Linked DNA regions of Homo sapiens: region 2 is linked to region 1. The links come from fine-mapping of genetic effects on gene expression. A gene starts in region 1. The other region holds a variant in brackets. All regions are shown on one strand. Distances are from middle to middle.

Region 1 (5,368 bases):
GTCATCAAAAACAAGGAACATCTGAGAAACTGTCATAGCCAAGAGGAGCCTAAGGAGACATAGCAACTAAATGTCATATGATATGCTGCATGGGATCCTGGAGCAGAAAAATAGTAACGATAATAGTGGACAAAAGCACCTCCAATCACTTCAGGCTTCATGGAGCTTTTTTTTTTTTTTTTTTTGAGATGGAGTCTCGCTCTCTCGCCCAGGCTGGAGTGCAGTGGCACGATCTCGGCTCACTGCAAGCTCTGCCTCCTGGGTCATTCTCCTGCCTCAGCCTCCTGAGTAGCTGGGACTACAGGCGCCTGCCACCACACCCGGCTAATTTTTTTTGTATTTTTTTTAGTAGAGACGGGGTTTCACTGTGTTAGCCAAGATGGTCTTGATCACCTGACCTCGTGATCCGCCTGCTTCGGCCTCCCAAAGTGCTGGGGTTTTTTTTTGTTTTTTTTTTTGAGACGGAGTCTTGCTGTTGCCCAGGCTGGAGTACAACGGCATGATCTAGGCTCACTGCAGCCTCCACCTCCCACCTCCTAGGTTCAAGTGATTCTCCTGCCTCAGCCTCCTGAGTAGCTGGTATTACAGGCGCACGCCACCACGTCTGGCTAAATTTTGTATTTTTAGTAGAGATGGGTTTCTCCGTGTTGGTCAGGGTAGTCTCGAACTCCCGACCTCAGGTGATCCGCCCGCCTCGCCCTCCCAAAGTGCTGGGATTACGGGCGTGAGCCACTGTGCCCAGCCTGGCCTTCATGGTGCATTTTTTAAATGCTTTGGTTTTTCCGACTTTCCTTTCCTCCTCCCCCTGCCCCGACATTATTTTGCTCTTGTTGCCCAGGCTGGAGTGCAGTGGCGTGATCTTGGCTCACTGCAACCTCCGCCTGCCGGGTTCAAGCAGTTCTCCTGCTTCAGCCTCCCGAGTAGCTGGCCGAGTAGCTGGGATTACAGGCGCCTGCTACCACGTTTAGGAGAGACGGGGAGTTTTCATGTTGGCCAGGCTGGTCTCGAACTCCTGACCTCAGGAGATCCACCCGCCTCCGCTTTCCAAAGTGCTGGGATTACAGGCGTGAGCCACCGCGCCCGGCCGGTTTTCCGGCTTTCATTCTTTTGGGGCACTTGCATTGCACCCAGGGTTCCCCAGAACTTATCCTACCCCACACCCTTTTCGTATTTCCTATGGCTCTGTCCCCAACGAGCTATGGTGATCTCAGTCGCATGGCCTCAGTTCTTTTCTTCTAGCGACCTCCATCCAACTTTCTATTACACAGCGCCCCCTAGACGTTCAATTCAGCATGACCAAACCCAAACCCTGATTTCCCAAACCCTCTTTCCGCATTTCTTGCTCACTGCATGGACAGAATCCTAGGCATCACCCCCTACTTTGCTTTCTCAGGACTCCTTGCCAGTCGGTCCCTAAGTTCTGCCAGCGGCGCCTGCGTGGGGTCTCTTGTACCGTGTTCTCCTCTCCATCCTTGCTGCCGAGCCCTCAACACCAGTGGGCCCCCTGCCTTCTGGAGTTCCCATTTACCTCCCTATGTCTTTCCTTGCTTCCTTCCTTTCCATCTCTAGCAGCTAATGACATGAGAAAATGTAGATTCTCTCTGGCCTCCATGCCAGCCAATTTCATGACTGCTGCCCACTGTAATTAATGAATTCCTTTTCTCTATCTTGAGGTGTGTGTGTGTGTTTAGGCGTTTATTTACACCTTTTGTGTTTGAAACACAAAACACTACTTCCTAGAATCACTAGGAAGTAGTAGCTGAGTTAGCAGTTTATTTTAATATGTAACATAGTAAGGTGACAAAGCTCATTTTAATAGCACCAGCCATTAACCCAGTTTTCTCAGTGTTCATATGGACGTAAATAATGACACAAGAAAAACACTTTTGAGGGTAGTTACGGGAAAAGCTGACATTACATGGCTGCATAACCCAACCGACTCAGGATCTGATAATGAAAGCGTGAAGATAATAAAGAAGCATCAAGCTGCGAAAGGAAAGGAAAATTACAAAATGCTCACGCAGCGAAGCTGCGAGGAACCCCACCGAGCCAGCCAGGAGTCGAACCTGGAATCTTCTGATCCGTAGTCAGACGCGTTATCCATTGCGCCACTGGCCCTGAGATGGCACTGTTTCTCTCCGTGATGGTACTTCAAGGTTATACTGCAGGGTTTCATGGGCGGTGTAGTCTCTCAACGGCGTTCTTCAGATAGACTAAGCATTCTGGGAGATTGAAGTTCGTCAGGAACCAGACCCTGAGATTGGTGGATCCATGCCGTACGCCACTGTGCAGCCCGCGGATTGGCAGGAAAAGCCACTCCCCATCCCTCCTGTTCGGGAGCTGTGGCAGACGCTCTGGTTGTTAAGGCGACTCGTCCCGCCTTCTGGGGCACTAGTTTGACTTTGTGATTGGCTACTAGTATCAAGGAATCCCGGCGTGGACAGCGCGAGGAGAAAGATGGCGGCGATGGCGGTCGGGGGTGCTGGTGGGAGCCGCGTGTCCAGCGGGAGGGACCTGAATTGCGTCCCCGAAATAGCTGACACACTAGGGGCTGTGGCCAAGCAGGGGTGAGGGCCGGACCTCCACGAGCGGAATGCGGGGTCCGAACTCGGGGACGGAGAAGGGCAGACTAGTCATCCCGGAGAAGCAGGGGTGAGGGGGTCGGCTAGGATGAGGAGGGGAGAGACTATTACTCTTTGGAGGGGAGGAGCCTCGGACCCAGTAACGTGAGGAAAATAACTTGTGGGAGGCCTGTGGTCACTGAGTCCCAAAGTTGGGAGAGTTGTTGGGTAAACTCTAAAGGGCCCTGGAGGTCGCGATTATTGTCTGGGAGTGGGAGGAGGTGTTAGGGGGCAAGGGAGAGAAGAGGCTAATTTTGACGGGGGAGGCATGGGCAGAACTGGGGCAAATCTGGATGTGATGGTCTTGGAAACATACTGACACCTGAGGAGAAAAAAATTCTACTTGTGGATATCCATCATTTTCTCCTTACTCATATGTCCCATGGCTGTGTTTTAGGGAGAAATTGAGGCACAGTACAGCAGAGTTGATATCCCCCAAGGTGGTCTGAACTCAGCAGCCTAGTAGGCTGAACTGATGGCAGCTGAAAGGGCTGTGCAAAATCAAGATAGCCTAAATCCAGTTGCTTGGCTCTCTGGCACTGCTGCTGTCTTTACATGATTCTGGGTCTGTCGCGGTTGTAGGTTTGATTTCCTCTGCATGCCTGTCTTCCATCCGCGTTTCAAGAGGGAGTTCATTCAGGAACCTGCTAAGAATCGGCCCGGTCCCCAGACACGATCAGACCTACTGCTGTCAGGAAGGGGTAGGGACCATCCCATATGCCCCTTAATTATTAGAGGCAATAACAACTTCTGCTTTATCGGGGCCCTCATTCTCCTCCTTTTCTGACTTGGATATATTTGTTAGTCCCTGGGATATAGATAACTTGTTTTCTCCTTGCTTCTCTATTCTGCATCAGGCTATCCCATGTCTATGTAGAAAAAACCTTTGTCTCTCATTTCTACTCTTGATTCCCAAAACTAAAAATTGAACAAGTAAAGTGCTGAACCTTATTCAGTATTTGTCTTTCTTGGGTGGGGGAGTGCAGACTGGAATACGCTAATTGTGGGAAAGCTTTCTCCATGGATTCGTCCAGACTCAAAAGTGGAGAAGATTCGCAGGAACTCCGAGGCGGTAAGACTGTTTGACTTCTCTGCTGGATTTTTCTAACCAAGCTGGGTGGGGAGAGTGGTCCCCTCCCATCCCCAATAACTTGGTAAATTAACTGATAGAATGAAATTAAAGCTATTAGGCTGGGTGCTGTGGTGCACACCTATAATCCTAGCACTTTGGGAGGCTGAGGCTGTAGGATCACTGGAGCTCGGGATTTCGAGACCAGCCTGGGCAGCGTAGTGAAACCCCATCTCTATAAAATATACAAAAATTAGCCAGGCATGGTGGTGCATGCCTGTGGTCCCAGCTACTCAGGAGGCTGAGGAGGGAGGATCAGTTGAGCTTGGGAAGGTCAAGGCTGCAGTGAGTGGAGACTGTGCCACTGCACTCCAGCCTGGGTGACAGAGTGAGACTTTGTCTCAAAAAAAAAAAAAAAAAAGCTGTTTGCTTGTTAGCTCAAACTTTTCCTCTTCATCTCCGTTCCAGGCCATGTTACAGGAGCTGAATTTTGGTGCATATTTGGGTCTTCCAGCTTTCCTGCTGCCCCTTAATCAGGAAGATAACACCAACCTGGCCAGAGTTTTGACCAACCACATCCACACTGGCCATCACTCTTCCATGGTATAGCTGAGGGGCTCCTTTCCTGCTGCATATCATAGTAGTCAGATTGTGCTAAGTACCTTCTTGTGCCTAGCCATTCAGTGAAGGGTGTGTTTGGCAGAATTGAAGTATCAGTATTGGCGGGCACAGTGGGTGATGCCTGTAATCCCAGCACTTTGGGAGGCTGAGGTGGGCAGATCACTGAGCTCAGGAGTTCGAGACCAGCTTGGGCAGCGTGGTGAAATCCTGTCTGTATAAAAAACCAAAACCAAAACAAAAACAAAAAAACACAAATTAGCTAGGTGGGGTGTCACACGCCTGTAGTCCCAGCTACTTGGGAAGCTGAGGTGGGAGGATGACTTGAACCTGTGAGGCGGAGGTTGCAGTTAGCTGAGATTGCACCACTGCACTCCAGCCTGGGTGACAGAGCCAGACCTTGTCTCAAAAAAAAAAAAAAAAAAAGGTCAGTATTGCGCACCTCTCCATCTAAAAGTGGTATGAAGAGAGTTTCAAAACATGTAAATGTAATTATTTTGGAAACTTACGTAAGACAAGGCAGATATTTACATAAGGATCTATATATAAGGTACATGTTCACTTACAAAATTACAAATTGGGAAAAGCATATAAAGGGATTAACGAGGTCTGGATGAAGTTTTTTTTATTGAGGGAAACTTTCTGGACCCAATGAGTTCAAAAGAGAGTTCTAAAAGGGTGACTGTTCATGTGCAGTTCTGGATGCGGGTACCCTTGGTGGCACCAGAGGACCTGAGAGATGATATAATTGAGAATGCACCAACTACACACACAGAGGAGTACAGTGGGGAGGAGAAAACGTGGATGTGGTATGTCTCCCTTTGCTGCTGTACCAGGGTGCAAGGGATAGGGTGAGGGGAAGTACAGGGTGCAACCTGTAGGGAGGTCTCCTTGAGCTGTGGTGATTGGTCGGCCATATCTAGTTTACTGTACTTTTCTGTATTTGACTGAACAGGTGGCACAACTTCCGGACTTTGTGTGACTATAGTAAGAGGATTGCAGTGGGTGAGTCCATGAGAATCCTGGGATGGGTGTGGCTTCTCTTACCTCCTGTGAATAA
Region 2 (5,368 bases), 26 kb before region 1:
GTCTCTACTAAAAATATAAAAATTAGCCAGGCGTGGTGGCTCGTGCGGGTAATCCCAGCTACTCAGGAGGCTAGGGCAGGAGAATCGCTTGAACCTGGGAGGTGGAGGTTGCGGTGAGCCGAGATCGTGCCACTGCGCTCCAGCCTGGGCAACAAGTGCGAAACTCCGTACCCCCAAGAAAACAAACAAACAAACAAACAAAACAGGCGAATGAGGAATGCGCGCTAATAGGGAGTCTGTGGTGGGAATTCGAGAGGAAGGTGACCCTGAGGAAGCACTGTATGGTGCCCGGCATGGGCTGGGCTGGGCTGGGCTGGGCTGGGCGGCAGCGCCTCAGAGCCAGGCCTTAGTGAGGAGACTCGCAGGACGCGGCTTGGGTGGCAGGTCTGGGAAGGTTCCTTCCGAGAGCTATTGGGACAGGTTTAGACCCCCCAAATGGCGACCTCGAACTTAACCCTTTGTGCCTCAGTTCTCCCCCTCTGTAAAATGAGTATAATGGTGACTTTCTCACAGGACGCTTTAAGAACTAAACGAGGCCTGGCCGAGGGCGGTAGCTCACGCCTGTAATCCCAGCACTTTGGGAGGCCGAGGCGGGTGGATCACGAGGTCAGGAGATCCAGATCATCCTGGCTAACACGGTGAAACCCCGTCTCTACTAAAAATACAACAATTAGCCGGGCGTGGTGGCGGGCACCTGTAATCCCAGCTACTCGTGAGGCTGAGGCAGAGAATTGCTTGAACCCGGGAGGCGGAGCTTGCAGCGAGCCGATATTGCGCCACTGCACCCCAGCCTGGGCGACAGAGCGAGACTCCGTCTCAAAAAAAAAACGAGGCAAGGCAAGCAAAATGCTTGGCGTAGTGCCTGACTCATCGTAGGCCCTCAATAAATGTTAGCAATTACCACCATTTTCTCAGCATCTGCCCTTCACTGGGGAGGCACTAATGAGAAGGGGCAAAAAAGCCTTTCCGAGACCATCCTGTTTCCCAGTCCGGGTTCCACCACCCGAGCATGCGAACCCAGGGCGTTGGGAACCCAGCGCGCACCCGTCGAGGGGCGGGGCCTGCCGTTCCCGCCTCGAGTGTGGCCCCGCCTCCACCTCCTTCGTCGCGGCCTCTAGTGCACTTTCGGCTCCTTCCCCTTCCCGGGCCTTTCAGCTTGGTCTTTCCGGGCCTCGCTTCCCCCAGCCCCTGCGCCCGGCCCGAACGAGAGGTTCCGGAGCCCCGGCGCGGGCGGGTTCTGGGGTGTAGACGCTGCTGGCCAGCCCGCCCCAGCCGAGGTTCTCGGCACCGCCTTGAGAGCTTCAGCTGCCCCAGGGTGTGCAGGTTTGCTTTAGAGGGTCGGCGGGCGGAGCTTCGGGGAAGAGGAGCTCTGGGAGAGTCATTCCGGCCAGTGGCCGGAGACCGTCGTCGCTCTTGGGAATCCTTGGCCGCCCAGACAGAAGGGAAGTAGGCGCCGGAGAGCCCGTTCTGCATTTTGATTCATCTCGGGCCCTGTAAGGGTCATATCTTGTGAAAATAACCTGTAAAATCAATTTAACGTTCAGTGCAGCGTGTAAAGACAGCTCTAAGAATTTAAAAGACGCCTGAGTCAGAACATTTAAATGCTTGGGTCCCTGTAGCAGCGTTTTAACACGTCTGAGTGCAGAGGGTGGAGAATCGAGCCTGATTGCCGTTCACGCCCTGTAACCTTTAAGAAGGGTAAAGAAAGGCACCCTAAAAAACGCAAGGGGACACTTACCCTAGGGGGGGACGAACAGCTAGCTTTTTGGAATTTGGGTTGGTCTTCATTTCCAAGTGCGAAATTTGCCTGCAAAACTTTTTATTTGCAGTCATAGATCAACGATAAACAGAATTGTTAAAACACTGAACTTAACTAAGTAGTGGCTTTTGTTGACAAGTCGATTGTGTTATTAATTCTTAATGTCTCATCCAAGGCAGGAATCGTTATCTCAGTTTTGCAGGTGGGAAAAGTTTGGCACAGAAAAAAGCATTTTCCTTAAGTTCTCAGAAGCAACGGCCGGCCGAGCTGCAAATTAAGTCCCAGCATTCTGCCTCCTCAGCTGCGTCCCCCTCTAGACCATGTTAGAAAACAAATGAGTAGTTACTTTGATGTTACTCATAAAACGATCGAGTAAACCAAATGTTCTATAAACATGAAGCGTTAAATCATAATAACCTTCAATGCCTGTTCAGCTTTGGGAGGCTCAGTTGCCCTTTGGAGTTTGATACCTTGCAGAGAGGAGGGGCAGAGCAAAAACATGAAAAGTAATGTCAAGGGAAAATTTTTGTCTCCTGAGGTCAAACTGTGCCCATCTTTACTGCCCCTGTGTTGGTGTCATTCCTTTCAGCGCACTCCATGTTCTGGCAAAACACCCACAGCTCACGTTCTCGTTGTAGCCACATTACACCTTTGCATTACTCTTTTGCCACTGACCTCACTGTCAGTCTTCTTGTCACGCTGTTTCCTCCAGGTGCTCTTTTCTTAGGCTGTTATGTGAAAACCAGTTGTTCAAGTGTGGAATGATTTGTCATTCCTGAAGGATGATTCTAGAGTTAATGATAAAAAAAAAAAAAACTACCAACAGATCTTAGACAAAAAAAGAAGCACAAAAAAACTATTATGGAATTTGATAGCTGAGTTATTTGGGGGGAAAAAGTAGACTTTGATTTTTTTCCCTTTTCCCCCAGTTCACTCATAACTGGGAAGCTGCAGCTCAGTTTTAACTTTGGCATAATGGTGGTGGTGGTGGAGAATCCTCTTGTTTAGACTCAGTGAATTGGAAAGTTCTCTTTTTAGGATGCTCCTTTTGGACAGCTTGGAGCAAGTGGAAACACATGTGTGCTTAGAATGTGACATGTTTTGGCACTTGTAAATCTGTTTGTCCATAAAGCTTGTGTAAGAGCTTGGGACCCAGGATGTGTGGTATAGGCCCTCTGTAAAAGTCATCCTTGAGGTTCCTTTCCAGCTTGTGGACAGCAGAAATTTGAACATAAGGTAGTGTCCTTGGAGCAGCCAGCTGTTTATTCATCTTTTTGTTTTCTTTCACTTCTTGGTTCCACAGATTAGAATCCCAAGAAAATCAAATGGCATCCGGGGATTTCTGCTCACCTGGAGAAGGGATGGAAATACTTCAACAAGGTAAGAGTAGCCACTTGCAAAAGGTTTGATGATTTATCCAGAGAGGTCTTATCCAGGTTCTTGCCTTTTCTAGTAAAAAGCATTTATTGGCTCACACCTGTAATCCCAGCACTTTGGGAGGC[T/C]GAGGTGGGTGGATCACGAGGTCAGGAGATCGAGACCATCCTGGCTAACACGGTGAAACCCTGTCTCTACTAAAAATACGAAAAATTAGCTGGGCGTGGTGGTGGGTACCTGTAGTCCCAGCTACTCCAGAGGCTGAGGCAGGAGAATGGTGTGAACCTGGGAGGCGGAGCTTGCAGTGAGCTGAGATCGTGCCACTGTACTCCAGCCTGGGCAACAGAGCAAGACTCCAAAAAAAAAAAAAAAAAAGGATTTATAAGTTTCCCCAGTATGGTTTTCCTCACAGAAGCATGTGTTTCTGAGGAAACTGGAATACATGAAGATCCTTGAACACTCTCTTATTGGAAAACAGACTACACTAATTCCTGTTAATGTTGGTTCAATATCTGCTTGTGTAGTAGGCTAAAAACTCAAGATGCTCCCATGCTGATGTTAGCAAGCATATTATAAAAATAAGGGTAGCCAGCAAATTCCTTGAAGGTGTCCTTCCTACCTGTGTCTTAAATATTCTCATATCTTAGTCTCCAAAATTTCAGATCCTTCTATATCCTGAGTTCTTTCCATATCTCAGATCCTTTCTATATCTTGAATCCTTCAAGAGCTTGCATTTTCTATATCTTGACTATTTCCATATTGGATGCTTCAGTACCTTAGGGAAAAAGAGAGATTTCTTATTTCCCAAAAAGACTTTGGGTATAATGTTCCAAAGAATGAAAATTTGGGTGTTTTGGCAAGTAGAGGTAAAAGACCCCAACAGAGAGCATATGGAAAAAGAAATGGAAAGAAAGCTCCTTGAGCATATGGAAAAACCAGAGGATCTCAATTTCTTACACTTTTTTCTCATGCCTGTGCTGTTTTGTATCTACATGGGTTACTCAACTCTACTGACAATTATAAGTATTTGGGCCAGCTGGCCAGGTGTGGTGGCTCATGCCTGTAATCCCAGCACTTTGGGAGGCCAAGGCGGGCGGATCACCTGAGGTTGGGAGTTTGAGACCAGCCTGACCAACATGGAGAAACCCCGTCCCTACTAAAAATACAAAAATTAGAGGCTGGGCACGGTGGCTCACACCTGTAATCCTAGCACTTTGGGAAGCCGAGGCGGGCAGATCACGAGGTCAGGAGATTGAGACCATCCTGGCTAACAAGGTGAAACCCCGCCTCTACTAAAAATACAAAAAAAAAAAAAAAAATAGCTGGGCGTGGTGGCGGGTGCCTGTAGTCCCAGCTACTTGGGAGGCTAAGGCAGGAGAATGGCGTGAATCTGGGAGGTGGAGCTTGCAGTGAGCCGAGATCGTGCCATTGCACTCCAGCCTGGGTGACAGAGTGAGACTCCGTCTCAAAAAAAAAACAAAAAACAAAAAATATTAGCCAGGCATGGTGGCGCATGCCTGTAATCCCAGCTACTCGGGAGGCTGAGGCAGGAGAATCGTTTGAACCCGGGAGGTGGAAATTGCAGTGAGCCGAGATCACGCCATTGCACTCCAGCCTGGGCAACAAGAGCAAAACTCCATCTCAAAAGAAAAAAATAAAAAAGAATTTGGGCCAGCTGTGGTGACTCACACCTGTAATCCCAGCACTTTGAGATGCCAAGGTGGGAGGATCACTTGAGCCCAAGAGTTCAAGACCAGCCTGGGCAATGTAGTGAGACCCTGTCTGTAAAAAAAAAATTAGCCAGTCATCGTGGTTTGCCTTGTAGTCTCAGCTCCTCAGGAGGTGGAAGGATCGCTTGATCTGGGGAGGTTAAGGCTGCAGTGAGCTGTGATTGTGCCACTGCACTCCAGCCTGGGTGACAGAGTGAGACCCTGTCTCAAAAAGAAAAAAAAAAAATTGGTTAGTTGAACGTTTAACTTACTCTAAGTGTATTCTGTTAGTCTTGTTTATGCGACTACATATCACATCCAAAGTTGGAACTTCACGTGTTGTGTTTCTTTCCCCCTACTTCAAGAACTCTATTAATTTTGGATGAATGAGGCATTTTGTGTATTGTGATTCCTACTAACGGTCCCTTAATTTTTATTCTATTTGTCTAATATGTACCAACTGCATTTCCGTTTCCTAAGATCTTAGTTTATTACTTATTCCCCCTTAATATCCTTGTATATAATA

Evidence for each region.
Region 2: its variant is fine-mapped to the expression of PRMT5 in whole blood (INTERVAL, PIP 0.91).

The regions. Positions count from the first base shown.
Region 1 is chr14:22,926,451-22,931,818 of GRCh38, reverse strand. PRMT5 (protein arginine methyltransferase 5) reads left to right here and starts at 2,443. Exons shown (of 17, transcript NM_006109.5): 1 at 2,443-2,567; 2 at 3,204-3,322; 3 at 3,608-3,693; 4 at 4,159-4,293; 5 at 5,005-5,117; 6 at 5,264-5,313. The coding sequence starts at 2,458. PRMT5-DT (PRMT5 divergent transcript) reads right to left here and starts at 2,210. Exons shown (of 3, transcript NR_110002.1): 1 at 2,067-2,210. TRR-ACG1-3 (tRNA-Arg (anticodon ACG) 1-3) reads right to left here and starts at 2,118; the gene lies at 2,046-2,118. LOC124903285 (a long non-coding RNA gene) reads right to left here. Exons shown (of 2, transcript XR_007064073.1): 2 at 4,917-5,358. RefSeq lists a silencer at 1,990-2,079 and enhancers at 2,490-2,599, 4,658-5,368.
Region 2 is chr14:22,952,871-22,958,238 of GRCh38, reverse strand. It overlaps HAUS4 (HAUS augmin like complex subunit 4), which reads left to right and starts at 1,149. Exons shown (of 10, transcript NM_001166269.2): 1 at 1,149-1,323; 2 at 3,063-3,139. The coding sequence starts at 3,085. It overlaps PRMT5-DT (PRMT5 divergent transcript), which reads right to left. Exons shown (of 3, transcript NR_110002.1): 3 at 3,547-3,908. MIR4707 (microRNA 4707) reads left to right here and starts at 1,210; the gene lies at 1,210-1,289. RefSeq lists enhancers at 1-365, 366-945, 1,328-1,457. The variant T/C (reference allele first, on the strand shown) is at 3,262.